Regions from separate parts of the Homo sapiens genome. Here all the other regions are linked to region 2. The links come from fine-mapping of genetic effects on gene expression. A gene starts in region 2. Each other region holds a variant in brackets. All regions are shown on one strand. Distances are between the middles of the regions.

What was found. PIP is the estimated chance that this variant, and not a neighbour inherited with it, causes the effect. A credible set is the group of variants that fine-mapping cannot tell apart.
Region 1: its variant is the best candidate, but not a certain one, in a credible set for the expression of GLS in skeletal muscle (GTEx, PIP 0.68).
Region 3: its variant is the best candidate, but not a certain one, in a credible set for the expression of GLS in whole blood (INTERVAL, PIP 0.80).

The regions. Positions count from the first base shown.
Region 1 is chr2:190,966,936-190,972,879 of GRCh38, forward strand. It overlaps STAT1 (signal transducer and activator of transcription 1), which reads right to left. Exons shown (of 25, transcript NM_007315.4): 25 at 2,214-3,782. The coding sequence ends at 3,768. Among named protein-coding and RNA genes, the nearest start is that of STAT1, 44 kb to the right of the region's middle. The variant T/C (reference allele first, on the strand shown) is at 2,369.
Region 2 is chr2:190,877,509-190,883,452 of GRCh38, forward strand. GLS (glutaminase) reads left to right here and starts at 3,313. Exons shown (of 18, transcript NM_014905.5): 1 at 3,313-3,962. The coding sequence starts at 3,577. LOC124906110 (a long non-coding RNA gene) reads right to left here and starts at 4,480. Exons shown (of 2, transcript XR_007087791.1): 1 at 4,405-4,480; 2 at 1-4,060. RefSeq lists enhancers at 2,701-2,840, 4,237-5,436, 4,601-4,790 and silencers at 3,111-3,370, 3,711-3,770, 3,821-3,910, 3,971-4,280.
Region 3 is chr2:190,919,770-190,925,713 of GRCh38, forward strand. GLS (glutaminase) reads left to right here. Exons shown (of 18, transcript NM_014905.5): 8 at 1,255-1,287; 9 at 1,376-1,434; 10 at 4,148-4,214; 11 at 4,774-4,824. Among named protein-coding and RNA genes, the nearest start is that of GLS, 42 kb to the left of the region's middle. The variant A/T (reference allele first, on the strand shown) is at 3,284.

The sequences.
Region 1 (5,944 bases), 89 kb after region 2:
ATTAGAAAATTAAGGCAGTTTTTTAAAAAGGAGGCATGAGATACAGCAAAACAACTGGATGGAAGGCATTAAAGGCAGAGACTGGGGGGTTTTATTTCTATTCTGGAGAATGAACCAGACTCCAGGCCTGTGTGCGCCCCCACTGTACCCCTTGCTTCCTTTCCAAATAGCCAATAAAAGGCTGCAATGAAGTGTGTCTGACAAGCAGTCCCAATGGCAAAAGAATATCAAGACTGTTTCAATTATGTAGAAGAAATGTGGAAAGGCTGCAAACAGACACTGACAGTAAGGTATTAAGGTGTTATAATAGCTTTATGAAATATTATAGGAGAATTCAGAGTTTGATAATAGGTATTTGACAGCTTTCTACCTCTTAGATAGCTTTCTGTTCTCTGTAGACTCAAGATAACGTTAATAAATAAGTTTAAGACTGCTTAAGTATGGCTCTGTTGTTTTTTCCTTTTTACAATAAATCAAGCAAGGTGTTTAATTTCTCAGTGAGTGTAGCAAACACATAAACCAAAGTGAGTTCACAAAAACTTGGAAGCTGAGGATTATCATTTAAGAGCAATATAAACTGATCTTAAAAAGCTCTAAAAGCAATATTGTCTTCAGCTTTCCTAAAACTGGTTTAAATGTCATTTCTTTGAAATTGTATTTTTTAAATATAACATTTACATTATTTGTAGCTTCTGGCTGTTTGTTTGCATCACAAAATCTTAAGTTTTAATAAGGTGACTGCACTAGAATGTATGATCCAGTGTCTCAGAATATCTTAAGTTCCATAAAAGCAGGGATCTTTGCTTTTGTTTACCAATGTTTCCCAAACATCTAGTATAATGCCTGGCTCATGGCAGGTGCTCTATATAAATCTGATGAATTAATTAATGAATGAATCATAACTAACCAAAGGAAGCCAGTCACATAAATGGTCCTTACTTTGTTAATGTCCCAATTCAAAAGGTAAGCAGAAGAGTTTTCAAAACACTTTCTAGCTTTTTCCTGTCCTTTCCCTGGGTTAGTCAGTGACAGGACTGCTCTGTTCAGAAAGACTTGCCTTCATATTCCACTTTAGCTTTCAGGCAATAAATAGATTTCACTCATTTCATGCCATCTCAGAAAACCCTCTTTCCTTTAAAATGAGACATTTGTCCCCAGTAGCACACATAAGCTCTATGCTTATAAAACACTTTTCAAACTTAGAAACACCACACGAGAAATACTCAAACACAAACAAATATCCCTTAAGTTAGGATCTACTCAGTGACTTCTTATAATGGTTAATTATGTAGAATACAAACTTACACTAGTTAGCCAGGGCATATTTACTTTACTCCTTGGAGAGAGACCACTCTCAGTGTTCACTATAAATAAGCTTTATATTTCCTAGATGTAAATACGAAGATATGGAGATGAGAATAATCATTCTGGTTATGATGCCAACATTCATTATCAGGGAATAACACTATTCCATGATAATAGCTAAATACAACTTGACAGACTATGCCTAACTTGGTAATTATGCCTCTTACCCTTTTTTCCCCAATACACAGTGTATTTTACTTTGAGAAGACCTGGCCTTCTAGCTTTTGACATCTTTGGAAAAAAATGGCAGCTTTTTTGTGGGTGCAATAACTTCTCAGTAATAACTCATCTAATCGTGGGGGTGTAGATTTTAGATGACTGCTTTGGAGACAAGACAAAGTCCCATTTCTCATGTATTTTAAAATTAAAAACTGCTAATTTGGGGGTATTAGCAATACCCAGATTCATTTTAAAATAAGTGCTGAATCATCTGTATATTTGGGGACAGCTGTGGTCGCAAAGAACCAAAATACTTTTGTTTGTTTGCTTTTTATGGCACCTATTACAGCTGTTGCCAATAATATTACTCCTCTGACCTCTTCCATTGACATGTCTTAATCTGCCATAGCAATTCTGAATATGTGTAGGGCAGGTAAGGACAACATTTAGGAAAATAGTGTTATTGATCTTATTTTAAAATAAGGATTGAGGTACATGAGAAAAGCATCAAACCAATTCATAACGTCAGTAATTTTAAGAATCTTTATATTAAATACTATTAATGAGAGATTAATAGAATTTTAGAATTTTAATACTTCTTAAAAGTAAAGTCTCTTGGCTAGTGCAGTAAAATGAAACCATGCCGAATTCCCAAAGGGCAAAAAGAACTGACAGCTAAACCTCAGCAATTAGAAACAATATTGTTTTAATGTTGTCTTCTTTGTTTTTTAGTCATTTCAATTGTAAAATCAACTGAAACTTAGGTTCTCGCCATCTATATAAAAACTGAGAGAGGAGGCCTCAGATTGTATGCAGTGCCACGGAAAGCACTGTGTGCATATTA[T/C]ATTTAATGCAATACAGATACTTTAGCTTTAATTTTAAAACAAAACTCAAGAAATCTTTATCTCCACCAAAGAAGAATACAGCATTTGCATGATAATATAGTTGTGGTAGCAGTAGTGGAAAAACAAGATACAGCCACATAGACAGCAGTATGTAAAAGGGAAGAACCTTGTCAAACCCATCTCTTAATCTACTTTTTGTGTCAGTGATAAGGAAGGAAAAAGGTAAAAATACAGTATACTTCACGAAACATCATCCACTCAAAAAAGTGTCTGGAAAAAGTACAGGAGAGAGAATGGAACCATTCGCAAATGTGAAAAACACATATATCAGCGAAACATATGCAGTTCTCAATGCAGTTACATAGGAAATGAGTTTTGAAATGATCTGATTCTCATATTATCTCTGGTGTATTATTCAAGTTGTCAGTTACTGCTTTTTCTACTCCTTTCCCAATTTTGTGGCTAATAGACTAAATACCACCCTAATAACAAAAAGGACAAAGTAGCCCATTTAAGAAACATGAATTAAATTTCTGAGTTTATCTACATCTATGGTTAATTTCAACTTTTGAATGAGTGGTTGTGAATAGCCTAACTCCCTTGGGAGAACTGTAAAAATAATTGTATGTGACCAAGATGAAAGCAGAATGTATTCAGCTTTGGATATCAAACACAACTTGTGAATTTGGAAATGTACATCCTTCTATTGATATTAGCTAGTGTCATTAAGCCATAACAAACAGTAAAGCTAATATTCTCTTCTCAAGAAACAGAATTTGTCTTTGTCTTTAAATAGCCAATGTGAAAGATGTAATAAAATACACATTTTCCCCCTACCAGATCCATGATGGCTACCTTTGAAAGAGGACTGATATAATTGTATATAAACTTGGCTTTGAACTATTTCACAGGTAAACCAATGGAAAACTGCCAGTTACACTTAAAGCAAAGAAAACATGTAAGAATTCTCCCACAGAAATTTACCGTTCCTACGTCAAGCAGTTCCCTAAATAACCACTGATTTATCCAACAACCTATAACAGTTGGGCACTGACTTTATGCATAACATTTGCTAGATGTTGCTTAACTTCTCCTTTCCCAAAGGACCCTCATTCTCGTCCTGATACTTTGGGTGTATCTGGATGTTTTTCACTTGTGAAACCCACTCTTCAGAGAATGCCTTTCAATTTTACCTTCAGTAAGATGCATGATGCCCTTCAGAGTAACTGATGTTTCTGAGTTAGAGAAAAATTCACTTGCTATCAACAGGTTGCAGCGAATTTGCTGGCCTTTCTTTCATTTCCCTAGAAACACAGGATGTGAAGGAACAGAGTAGCAGGAGGGAATCACAGATGAGAAGGAAAACTGTCGCCAGAGAAGATGAAAAAAATTCATGCTCTATACTGTGTTCATCTGTAAAAAGACAAAATGTGGTTAAGTTTATTACACTGATCTTGTGAAATGCAGACTCATACATTAAACATTGCTTGTCTATTCTAGAATGAAGTAGTAGGAAGATACTTGCAATGGCAAATAAATACCGTGGAATAAGAGGGCCTTCAGCATGTACTATGTATTATCCTGGGCTAATCAAGACCTTTTATATCACCTAAGCTGACGGATTATTACTCTGCTGCCCACTGGCTTAATTTTGTGAATCCATCCAGACTGCATAAAGCTTTTTGCTGTTATGCAAGTCTGGGGACAGAGCAACGTGTCAAATCTGCTCATGTGAAACGGGTGAGGAAATGCTGAGCCATATGCCAGAGGGAGAGAGGAAGGAGAGGGAAATGATACACTTCCCCTAAAGGCCACTCAGTGGGTAAAATCAATGACTGTGTTTCAGGTACAGACTAAAGAAGCAGAATTACTAAGAACCCCTTCACCTTCCCCACCAGTGCCTTCTGCCCAGCTGCCTTGACCAGGACAACTTATAGTAAGTAAACTGTTCATCCAAAGGATACTAGCCTGCCAGTGACTTCCTGTCTGACTTCCACACTGGTCTTTCCCCTTAGACCAGATGCTTTCAATCGAGGATGATTCTGTCCCCTGGCAATGGCTGAAGACATTGCTGATTGTCCCATCTGGCTGTGAGGGTGCATGTGCTTACTGGTATCTATTTGGTAGAAGCCAGAGGTGTTGCTGAACCTCCTACGAAGCACAGGAAAGCTCCCCACCCCACCAATCCCCAACAAATAATTCTGAAGCCCCGAATACCAGTAGCACCAAGACTGAGACACATGGCACTAGACTGGAAAGCCTCTGGAGAACTTTTTTTTAATCCCAAGTGCTCAATAGTGTGTGGTACATAGTGGGCTCTTAGGAAAATTATTTTGGATTGAAAAGCACAGTGAAAGTGTTGCCCCTATGTTTCAGTCTAGCTTATGTTTCTCTTTTCTTTTTCTTTCTTTTTTTTTTTCAAATTGGAGACGGAGTCTTCCTCTGTTGCCCAGACTGGAGTGCAGTGGCACCATCTTGGCTCACTGCAACCTCCACCTTCCAGGTTCAAGCGATCCTCCTGCCTCAGCCCCCCTAGTAGCTGGGATTACAGGCACACACCACCATGGCTGGCTAATTTTTGTATTTTTAGTAGAGATGGGGTTTCACCGTGTTGGCCAGGCTGGTCTCAAACTCCTGATCGCAGGTGATCCACCTGCCCCGGCCTCCCAAAATGTTGAGATTACAGGCGTGAGCCACCGCGCCCGGCCTGGCTGATGTTTCAAATGTGTGCTTAATAGGGTGGACCGTGGGGGTAAAGAGAGGGAGGGAGGGGGAGATAGATAGATAGAGGAAGAGAGGAAGCCCAGATTCAGATCCTGTCACTGCGTGACCAGGGCAAGTGGCTTAACCTCTCTAAATCTCAAAGTCTTCATCTATCAAAAGGGGATTAATAGTACCTAGCAGATAGGCTTGTTAAATTAGATGGCATACGTAAAATGTTTAGTATAGTAGACAGAAAGTAGTAGACAATTAATAGCTAGTCCTATCATTATGAGCTTTGGCTAAAGGCCTCTTGGAGAGTAGACTGGTTCTATTACAGTCCCAGAGGAAAACACTGATTACACAGGAAATCCAGACTAAACAAATGCCCAAGTCATACTGCAGAGAACACTGGTGCTCTGGCTCTCTTGGACAATTTCCTCAGGAGCCTATGGTCCTGTTGCTCCTGAGGCTGCACCAGGCGTTGGCCCCTGGTACCACCCTCTTTCAGAGCTGCAACCTCCAGACTTGGCAGAAGACAGCCAGCTTGGGGAGAGCTGCTTCTGTTTCAGAGTATACACTCTGATTCTAAGAGTAGATGCTGGATGGAAGTCATGGCCAAGGGGCAGGACAGCAAACCATTGTGAAGTCAACCCAATTTAGAGACTGATTCAACCGTTGTCTAACCAGTGCCGTGCCTATATTATGAACTCTTTTTCTTTTCTTTTCTTTTTTTTTTTTTATATTATAGCCTCTTTTAGCTCTTTAAGTCTTCTATGGGTTTAATGGGAGGCTTTAGTGGTGTATAGAGGGTGTGTGTGTGTGTGTGTGTGTGTGTGTGTGTGTGTGAAATGGATTTATTTTATTCTACAAAT
Region 2 (5,944 bases):
CTTACTTTGGTACACATCTATATTCAGTATTGGAAAAATAAGCCATGTTTGGCAGGGCTTATCAGTGAGGCTAGGAATTTGGCCAGTTAAAGCAGGAAACCAACAGAAGAAAGGGAAGTAGTAGCAGAAGCTTGTTTAGAGGCTTCCTGAACCTTACTCTATTCTCCAAACAGAAGAATTTCAAAAAAAGGCTTAGGCAATTCTTTTAAGCTGTTAGTCAAAGGAAAATTACTTTCTTTTTAGTTCTAGGTCAACAAATAATCTACTAGTTTTTGTGAAGGCGCAATCTGGAATTTCTATATATATATATTATTTTATCTTATTTTATTTTATTTTTTGAGATGTAGTATCGCTCTGTTGCCAGGCTGGAGTGCAGTGGTGCGATCTTGGCTCACTGTAACCTCGGCCTCCCAGGTTTGAGTGATTCTCCTGCCTCAGCCTCCCAAGTAGCTGGGATTACAGGTGTGTGCCACCACGCCCAGCTAATCGTTGTATTTTTAGTAGAGATGGGGTTTAACCGTGTTAGCCAGGATGGTCTCAATCTCCTGACCTTGTGATCTGCTCGCCTCAGCCTCCCAAAGTGCTGGGATTACAGGTGTGAGTCCACCGCGCCCGGCCTATATATGGATTTTATTATGATCTTGAAACATTAGCCTTTTGTAATCTTCGACAGAACAAAGAAGCTCAGGAACATAGAAGCACAGGAACCTTTCTTCAAGTTAGAACAGACACAAAGTGCACAAATTCCAATTATTCCTTTTGATGGCTGATTACCTGATGATGGCTATGGGACAGCAACTCTTTGTAGTGTAGCTGCACTTAGGAGCAAAAAGGAAGTCGAAGAGTAGATCTGACAACCCAACCATAGTTAATGTGGAGAGCATTTTTCTATTTGTAGATATTTTGGTGGACTACTTATTGTATGTATACAAATGTTTTTATACTTTTTACATGATGATTACATGAGTTTATGTAATGATATAATTCAATTTAACATAACTGAAACTTCAAAGTTGTGTAATGGTTACAAAGTTGTAGATAAAAATATCTTTAAAGATTAAAAAATTATATAAGATGAAGAAAAGAATCAAATGAAAGTATTGAGTCACATTTTTATTCTATTTATAATAGTTTCTTTGCTGTCTATAACCTTTTCATTAGCCTTCTCAAACAAGGGGTTAAATTTCAGTGGACTCAATTCTTCCAAATTTTGGGAGTAATATCTATCCATTCTCACCAAAAGCAGAAAGTCTGGAAACTACCAGAAAATAAAACTCTAGAAACTAGAAACTCTAGAAAATAATCTGTTACTAGGTTAGCTTTCTTATTTGTTAAGTGAACTATAAAGCCTTTAAACCTTTAAATATCTAAAACAATTTTCATAAGAAACTCAGAGAAATTAAGGGAGAAACTGAGAGGAAAACAGTAACTGGATTGTCAGTTGCTTTGTGTTGTTGAGAAAAAAGAGGCAGTTAAAATTGATAACTAATTGCAGCTAATATATTGGACAATATTAAAGTCTGCAAGTCATTAACAAGTCAGGGTTAGGCAGGGGTAATATTTGTTACCTTTCCTCTGAAACTTGATGTCTCTATTCCTGAATATATCATTACTTTGATTCATCAACATTTTTGGACAAGTAACATTAGTAATAAAAGCTATCTAAGTACTTTCCCATTGTCCTGCTTTTTTTTTTTTAAATAAAAAAGGTGACTATGTTTTACACATGATAGTTTTTTCCATGTTCTTCTGGTTAAAGAGCAGATAGAAAAAAAAAACTTAAAACACGGCAAGGCTGTAACATGCCAAAGGTCACATAACCTGTAGGTACAGCCAGATTTCCTAATTATTAATCTATTGAAATATTTTACAGTTCACTAGATTACTAAATCCGGTTATCAATTAATGATGCACCTGACATACACCCTTCTAGTTTCATAAAAATCACCTCATTAGGCCGGGCGTGGTGGCTCACGCCTGTAATCCCAGCAATTTGGGAGGCCCAGGGGGTGCAGATCCCTCGAAACCAGCCTGGGCAACCTGGCGAAACCCCGTCTCTACCAAAAATACAAAAAAAAAAAAAAAAAAAAGCAGGTGCTGGCTGAGGTGGGAGGATCACCGGGGCCCCTGAGTTCAAGGCTGCAGTAAGCCGTGATCGCGCCACTGCACTTCAGCCTGGGCGACAGAGTGAGACCCTTTCTCAAAACGAACACACACAACAACACAGTAACAACACACCAACCCCCAAAACATCTTATTAAACTCTGTGGATCTACTCCATTTAAACCTAATTGTTTCAGGAAATAGTCTAAAAACATTTTTTTGTCCTGGAATGTAATGTGTATGTAGCCTCAGGGAATAACTCAGTTTATCAGGTTCTTGGCTGTTTTTCCACAGGTCCAAAAGGATAAATGGATAAAGTGATGCTGAAATAACTTAGAGAACCCGTATTCCAACGCTTCTATTTTAAAACAGTGAAGCAGTTTTTAAAATAGAAAAGTATCTACAGTTTTGCTTTCAAGCAAATAGCGTTAACGGAATCATTGCTATTCAAAACTATTTTTGAAGTATCGGTGTACATTTAAAAAAAATAATTTTTAAAAAAGAAAGCTGTCGTATTCTGGATTCCGCAACCCCCCCACCCCGCCTCGCCACTCGTCGCCCTCCCTCCACCTCCACCCTCCCATGGCTTAAGTCGCATAGCTGAAAGGATTTTGCTCATTTTTTCCAAAACACTTCACGTCTGGGTAGTAGCCAATCATGGAAAGTTTCAAGCAAATGTTACATTTGGGAGAGGGATGAAGCTTGTCCGGGGCTGCTCTCGGAGGAGTCGCCAGACGCCCTGACCTGGGGGCCAGATGCGAGCTGGGATCGGCTGAGTTCCGACAGCTCGGCCAGACTCAGCCCTGCCAAACCTGCTGACCTCACTGCCCTCGGCTGCGGGGGATCTCGCCCATGAGTCTCCCCAACAGCTCGAATTCCCAGAGTGGAGGAGCCCACTGCTTCATAAATGCGAGAACCCAGAGCCCCTAGTACCCAACTAGGCTAGCCTCGGAGTTGGCACGGCGTGCAGAAAGTGGCTACTGAGCAGCCGGGCCTGGCTCACCCGCTTCACACGTCAGTTTGACTCCTCTCCCCGCCCCCCACCAATCCCCCGCCCTACTCTCCGCGCACCCAGAGCCGAGAGAAATTTGACTGCCCTAATCGCCAATCAAAAGAGAGGTCGAGGATTTGAGCCAATCGCAGCGGGCGAAAGGGGCGGGCCGTCGGCGAGCGCTGAAGGTCTCTAGCCCTCCCCTGCGCTTTAGCCTCAGTGCGGAGCCTTAGGCGGAGCGAAGAGAACCGGTCGCGGCAATCCTAGCGCGCAGCAGCAGCAGCAGCAGCAGCAGCAGCAGCAGCAGCAGCAGCAGCACCCGCATCCGCTGCGGGAGTCCGAGCCGGAACCACACCCAAGTAGCTGCCCTTTCCTCTTCTGTCATCTCACCGCCCCACCACAGACCGCGTTCCCCGAGGAAACCGGCCGCCCACGCCCGGAGCATCCTCCCCTGTTGAGCGGGCGCTGACGGACCCGGCGGCATGATGCGGCTGCGAGGCTCGGGGATGCTGCGGGACCTGCTCCTGCGGTCGCCCGCCGGCGTGAGCGCGACTCTGCGGCGGGCACAGCCCTTGGTCACCCTGTGCCGGCGTCCCCGAGGCGGGGGACGGCCGGCCGCGGGCCCGGCTGCCGCCGCGCGACTCCACCCGTGGTGGGGCGGGGGCGGCTGGCCGGCGGAGCCCCTCGCGCGGGGCCTGTCCAGCTCTCCTTCGGAGATCTTGCAGGAGCTGGGCAAGGGGAGCACGCATCCGCAGCCCGGGGTGTCGCCACCCGCTGCCCCGGCGGCGCCCGGCCCCAAGGACGGCCCCGGGGAGACGGACGCGTTTGGCAACAGCGAGGGCAAAGAGCTGGTGGCCTCAGGTGAAAAGTGAGTGTCTCCGCGAGGCGCAGGAGGCCTCGTTCCTTTCGGGGCCCGGGCTCAGGCTGTGTGGGGCCCTGCGGTGGGGCGGGATAGGAGCCGAGGGTCTAGAAAAGAGAAAGAAAGAGGTGCCGGGCGGCCTGCGCCGTCTGCGCCATGTGATTAGGCCCGGCCCCGCCCGCGCCTTCCCCGCCCGCAACCCTCCGCCAGGCACCCACTTCCCTTCTCCGCCCCCGGCGGGGGTCGCCCTGGTGGGGCCGCGGTGGGGCCTGATGGGCTCGCCTGGCGTCCCCAGCGCCAGAGAGGCCGCTCCCCTGCCCGCGCTGCGTGCTCAGCTCCCTGGCTTGCGGCTGCAGCGCCTGGCCGCCCGCCCCAGCCATTCGTGGGCGATGCTGCACGAACATCTCCACCGAGTGACATTTAGGAGTTGGGCGTTCAGCAGAGCCTTTACCTTCCTGACTTGTCGCTTTTCCTGGCTCGTTTCCGCTCTGCCTGCCCTCCCTTGGTTTCTGCCATCATCCGGTTGGAAGCCAGATGTGACAGAGAGCTCTTTATATTTCGGGAGTGGCTACCTCAGGCACGTGTAGAGCCATCTGGGGCACCGGAAACAATGTTTCAGAAGTGAGATTAGGAGGAATCCGGTCATGTGGCCGAGAAGATGGGGCACGCAGTATAGACCACCTGTTTGCATAAGGGACCAGCTTTGGCTTGTCAGGTCTTCCGTGAGATGGGGAGATTTTTAGAAATAAAAGTTAAATAGCCAAGATGAAATGTGACGTAATACACTAACTCAGTGAAAAATCTGAGTTGAGTAGGTTTTGTGACTTCATTGTGATAGGATGTTGACTCATCCTGTATGTGTACGGCACAGTAGTTTAGTCTTAAAGCAAAACTGGTTTTTCTTAAACAATATGCAAAGCAGTCTCCTATATATTTTTGTCTTGTGTAATACAAATGGACCACTTTGTTTTCCCAAAATGGGTAAAAATTTACGGATCTGCTTTCATTATACCTTACTCTTTTTCTGGCTTTGTACGCTGACACTCTAACCTGTTTTGCTTCCCTTTTATTTCTGCTGCTATTTCCAGCTCTAGAGTTCCTTAAGTCAAACTGAAAGTGAGAACATTGTTATAATTTCAATCTCACGCCTGCTTGATGTTTTCCTGTAATTGAAGTTGGGACCTTCCAGAAACTTTTCTAAAGTTCTTCTCCCAGACTGAAAAAGATTATTTGAAAAAAATCACTTGATGATGGGCGAAATTTGTGGTATTTTGTGATGTTGGTTTTGTGCCACAAAATAGCGTCCTGACCATGGACAGGTTATTTAATATCTTGGGTTAGATGACTTAAATCCTTTCAAGTTCTAAAAAGCTATACTTCTGTTAAATTTGTACTTCTCTCATGTTTTAGGGACTAGAATGATAATTTAATCTCATCTGGGACTCACTTTTACTTTAACATCATCCGGTTTACCAAGGAAGTAACGAGTTTACATGCAAGTGCCCAAGGTACAGAATTGCAAAATGCAGTCACAACCGTTTAAAAGTTCATCTTAAAGGCTACAAGATGGGAACTGCATTCTAGTAAAATTATGTCTTCAGGTCTGTGTCTCTGCAGTGGCTCTAGTGCCTCTCTTTTTTTTCCTCTTTTGTCAAACAGGAAATTGAGCTTCTTCTGTGATTCACTTGTCCAGAAGTTTCTGGTTTCATTGCCTTTTTAATAAAAAATCACCTTTTAGCAAGGGCCTCAAGGTTGTGAAGAAAGTTTTTTAATTTGGTTAAAGTTTCTATTTCCTTAATGATCTGGTTTCCAAATGTAGCTTTCCCTCTTTGGCTCCTTTCATTTTGCCTTTATGTGACAAACATTTCTCTTATCCTGGGAGGTAAGCTCCCAGTTGATCCTGTTATCCTTTCTAATGCTTAGCCTGCAAAGCATAGGTCATCCCTCAGTCAGCAGTCCACCTGGTATGCTAGCACTCACTCAGGACTGTG
Region 3 (5,944 bases), 42 kb after region 2:
TATGTCAAAGGATACTTTAGAGAAAATACATAGATAGTGATTACAATATGGCTGTAATTAAATTATCCTTAATCTTGTTGAAGTTTTGTTAGTGCCTAATTTTGATGAAATAGTATGGTGTTCCTTCCAGCTACTGATTGTATATATGTGATTGCACATCTTTCTTAAAAAAGTGGATTTGTAGGTTTTCACATATTGTCAGCCACACTCTAATCCTCTTGTAAAGAATGAACCTGGCTTTATTCAATTAAATAATTCTCTGGTACAGGTTTTCCTCCCATAATATTTTAAAGTACAATGTTTTGGGTTTTTTGAGGGTAAAGTAAAAGAAAATATGTTTTAAAAACTTTAGTTGTCAAATTATTTTATTTTAAGCCTATTTTAGAAATTAGAGATGTATTGTTTCTTTTGGGTGCATATCACCAATTAATACGTTTGATTTCAGATCTACAACTTACTGCTTTGTAAACTTCGCCGAGGTAAAATGAAACCATTTGGCTACTTGAACTGATCTACATTACATAGATTTTTCCTATTGACATTTGCAGTAGATAACATGTCAGAAATGAAAGTGATGAAACAATACATCTTCCATATTCTGAATTGGCATAATGCTAAATACAACAGAAGCTAATTTTTTAGAGACTGTGAAATATAATTTTTTTTAGTTCAAGTATATTATAGCAAGTGAGAGCTATTAAGAATAGAGCTTTCTCTGCAGTAGTAAAATGCAACCAGAATGTTTGCATATACTGGAATTAAAAGATTAGTTTTGCAACATAATTCATTTTTCTAACTCTGATATTAGTTTAAGGATTTAATAAAATATAAGTAGATTGTTCTTAATTGAAATATTTTATATATACTTAATTCTTTTCGAAGGGTGAAACTTTATTTTAAGTTTTTTTAAATATAAGATTAAATAAATAACACATTTTAGCAAATTATGTGCTGTCATGAAAGATAAGGGAATTCATGGTAACTTGTATTTAAAATTCTGTAACTTTGGGTTGGGTAAAGATATACTTAAAATAAAGCATTCCCTTTGTAATTCTAATGCATTCTCAACATATGGGTATTAAATAACATGAAAAAAAGTTTATATAAATGTTAAATTACTTTAGAACTATTTCCTAGATTTAAAAATACTAATGCAGTATATTATAATAGTAGCTTTGAAATTTTGATATTGGCTTGAAACTTAACTGTAGTGGTACCTATATTAACGTATTTATGTCTCTTATTTTTTTGCAGCAAGGAGTAAATAATGCTGAAAAATTTGACTATGTAAGTGCAACATGTCATTCAGTTTTCATGCCACATTCTCTATATATTTGTTTTTTGATTACTAATATTCCCTACTTTTGGTTTCTAGGTCATGCAGTTTTTGAATAAGATGGCTGGTAATGAATATGTTGGATTCAGTAATGCAACGTGAGTGTTTTAAATACTGTTTTGTTACGTAAAAACACACAACTGTATTTAGAATTGATCCACTCTCTTTTCATTGGAGGGAAATGAATGATTTCTAAATTACCTGACAGAAACACTTAAAAATACTTTAAATAGTTTTGACAAATTTCTTACAGGTAATCATACAATCAGAAGAGACCCCAAGTTTATCTCAAATTACTGGTGCTTATTCAGTTTTATCTTTGCTTGTAATACCTGTCTTACCTCTCTTCTATTTCTGTTCCAGGCTATCTGGATTTTTACCCCAATTTTTTATTTTAAAATTTGTGAGTCTATAGAAAAGTTGAAAAAATAAATATCTGGAATCTTTTACTTATATTTTCTAATATTTTGTCTTACTTGCTTTTTCTCAATCTCTGTCTCTTTAGATAGATAAAAAATATGTATGTATACCTCTAAACACAAATATGTAAATATATATGTACATAGATTTTTTTTCCCTAAACCATTTCAAATTAAGTTGCAGGCATCATACTTCACCCTTAGATAAGAAAGCACATACAGTCTAAGAATAAGGACATTCTCCTACATAACCACAATACCATTAACACATGTAAGAACGTTAACGTTAATTTTAAAATATCATGACATTAATCAATATGTAAATGTCCCCATCTCTTCCCCAAATGTCTTTTACAACTTTTATTATTATTTTTTAGATTCAGGAACAAATCAAGGTTCTTACATTGTATTTATTACGATGTCTGTTTTGTCTCTTTACTTAGAACAGTCCCCGTGCCCTTGCTTTCACAAATTTTATTAAATGGCTTTTATTTTTAAAGAGTGCAGGCTGCTTGTTTTATAGACCAGGGGTTGCTGACTTTTTCTTTGAAGGACCAGACAGTAAATATTTTAAGCTTGTGTACCATACGGTCTGTGTTGTAACTTCTCAGTTCTGCTGTTTAGTAGAAAACAGCCATAGACAATATGAGGGTGTGTTATAAAAAACTTTATAAAAACAGGCAGCAGGCCGTATAGTGGATGTTTCCCATTTTGTATTTGTCTGGTTCCTTGTCATTAGAAACACTATAATGTTAAACGTTATCGTAATATTATTATGTTAAACAGTTTTAGCATGTATACTACTATTTTATTCTTATTTTGCACTTCCTGCTTCGCATTTCAGGGGTAAACATTTTCAGGTTGCATGGCTTCCCAACATTAATTCATCAGCTTAAGTATCTTTTCCAGGAAGTATTCCATGAATCTCAACTTGCCTCTTTTCTGTGCTCTTCTGTTACCATATTTTATCAAACTTATTACATGTCTCTCTTTGCCCCATAACCACCATTAGACTCTGCCCTCCTTAAGACCTAGATGGAATGTTGTGTCTTCCAGTTCATTTCTGTATCCCTGTTATCTGGCAGATAATAGGCACTTGAGATAGTGTTGAAGAACTATGTGTCAGTCACTGTGATAACTGCTGACTAGTTAGTCATTTATCTAAACTATGTTGATGTTTTTTTTAAAAGTACGGCAAATTGATAAGAATTTGAAATGTTAAAATGTGCAATTAGAAGGGGCTGTCCACCTCAGTGATATAAAGAACATTAACCACAGTTCCTCTAATATCAGCAGCCCTTTTAGACTTGTAGGGCAATTCTCAAATATACCGCAAATTAAATCTGTCTAAATCAAAACTCATTCTCTTTCTTTCCAAACTGCTCTTTGCTCTAGAGATAGATCCCTGTATCAGTTAATATTATTATCCTCTCAGGCTATGTTAGAAATTCAGGCTTTGTATCAGTCTTTACTCTGCCTCTCCTTTTTCTCATCAGGTTGGAAGATTATCCAACTACTTGCATATTTG[A/T]TCATACCTCTCCTTCCATTCCTATCACAGCTGCCTAAATTCAGGCTTTTGTAGCTCTCATTACAGTATTCTCTTAATAGATCAGTCATCACTTCTTTTTCCCCTTTTTCAAACTGATGTCAGAGTTATCTTTCCAAAATGCAGATCTGATTAGGTAACTTCTTTGTAAGCCCTCAGGCTTTTGTTTTGTGGGTAGTCAGGAGCTATTAATTATTTGGCATCTATTGGTTTTGATAATTTGGTCCCAGTCTCCTTTGTTTGTTTGATGTTTTCCCACTCCTCTCCATGTGCCATTCCCCAGTTACATCAGAATATTTGCCATTCTTCAGTGGAGCCCTGTCTATATACTTTTCTAACCCGTTCATGATGCATGGAATTTGCCAGTGCCTAGGCCTCACCCTGAAATCTATTAGTCCATTGAGTCCTGCAAGATCCATTTTGTGTTTCCCACTCTCAGTGAAAGTTCCATGATTATGTCAAGTTCCCTGATTATGTCAATTAAAATGGACTCTTATTGTACTTTTGGGTAGCCAGAGGATTCTGCAGTTTTTCAGTGTATTTTAATGGTAGAAGATTTGAGAATTTTAAAATTAGCATTTTTGTTTACAAAATATGAAGACTAGAAAGGACCTGAATTCGTTTCAGTCATTTTATAGCCAAGAAAATGAAGATTGAAAGAATTACCACTTAAATGACTTGTCCAAAGTCACACAAATAGCCTATTGACAGAATTGATTGGAACTCTGTAGTCCTGAATCTTAGTTCAGTGTTCTTTATGCTGTACATTGCTATGCAAATGAAATTATGAACAATCACACTTTTAAAGAAAGTACATAGAGCAAATGTTTTTTTTTCTTCTTCCAGGTTTCAGTCTGAAAGAGAAAGTGGAGATCGAAATTTTGCAATAGGATATTACTTAAAAGAAAAGAAGGTTTTTAAATTTTTGTTTCTATTTCAAATTATTCTTTCATTTAATAAAATACATGAAGATGTATGCTAAGAATTCAACAATAGCCTTTAAGCAACTACCTATTACTATTTAAGGTGCAGAAGTTTTTGCAGAGTGCTCGTGAGTCAGTGTTATCAAATTGTTAATGTTATTGTTAATTTGATTTGTATCTGGCAGCATTTAAATATTTGACTCATATTATTTATTAATACAAATTTTGTTTGAGGTTTAGTCTATTTTTTCAAAAGCATGATGCCTGATTACTGTTAACTACTCTTGATTTTTTTAAGTGGCTGGTCTAGTAACTTGATTTATAAATCATGAATCATTTTATCATTGTCAGTTAAACTAGTATCTAGAAACTTACATGATGTGATAAAATTTTGCTTTTTTATTTCATGTTTATACTCTTTTAGAAGTTACATGCTATTTTATTAATTAAAATGAAACACTTGTGTACATTTGAAATTTTTCATATATTTCTCTACTTATGTGCATTCCTGTGTGCCTGAATTTTTAATTGCCTTTCTGGTTTTTTTAGTGTTTTCCAGAAGGCACAGACATGGTTGGTATATTAGACTTCTACTTCCAGGTAATCTAATTATGTAAATCGTATATATAAATGGATGTGTCGGCTGGGCACGGTGGCTCACGCCTGTAATCCCAGCACTTTGGGAGGCCAGGGCAGGTGGATCATGAGGTCAAGAGATAGAGGTCATCCTGGCCAACATGGTGAAACCCCATCTCTACTAAAAATACAAAAATTATTCGGGTGTGGTAGTGTGTGCCTGTAGTCCCAGTTACTTGTGAGGCTGAGGCAGGAGAATCCCTTGAACCTGGAAGGCCGAGGTTGCAGTGAGCCGAGATCACGCCACTGCATTCCAGCCTGGCGACACAGTGAGACTCCGTCTCAAAATAAATAAATGGATGTGTCACATTATGCAAAATATAGATGTCTCAGAAATCTTGGTTCTAGGCCATGAGAAAATACATTTTCCATTGACTTTCAAAAATGTCTTCATAAAAGGCAGTCTCATGTCCATGCATGTTGCCTAAAAATTCATGCCTCAAAATGTAATGGGGACAATTTTTTCTGTAAACATATTTAAGAATTGTCAAAAATAATGAACACTCCCAGAAATTGGCACTCTTAATTATAAACTGGGCTCTAAATTTTTCGTAGCTTTTACATTTTGTTTGGGAAAAGCTTTATTTTTTATTTTTTTATTTTTTAAATCAGAGGGCTCTTATTCAGCATTTAAAAGTGTCAGTGTCTCAGCTGACTTGGTATCTTGTAATTTCTTTGTTACTACTCTATCCTGGCTTAACTGGTGCTAGTTCATTTCTGCAGTGTCATATGTCGGGCTTTCTTGTAAGTTAGAGTAGCTCTCAATATTGAGGGGGTGGGGTTGAGCGAGAGGGACCGTGTTACGCACAATGGGCTATGGTATAGAACTCAATTTAGAATAGCCTTCCTGGAGATCTCTTCTTTCACCCACATTTTCAGCTCAATTTATTCTTACAGATTTAACACAGTTGGTGCCACTGATGGGGCTGTAATGTGAAGCCACATAGGAGGCTACATTATTGTTAATTTCTAGTTCACCTTACATTTGCCTGTCTTTACTATTAAAGGTTCCTTAATTTTAACCTTTCAGTAATCTTAGAGAATATATAAGGGAGGTTGATAATGAGTTAGATTTTGATAGATG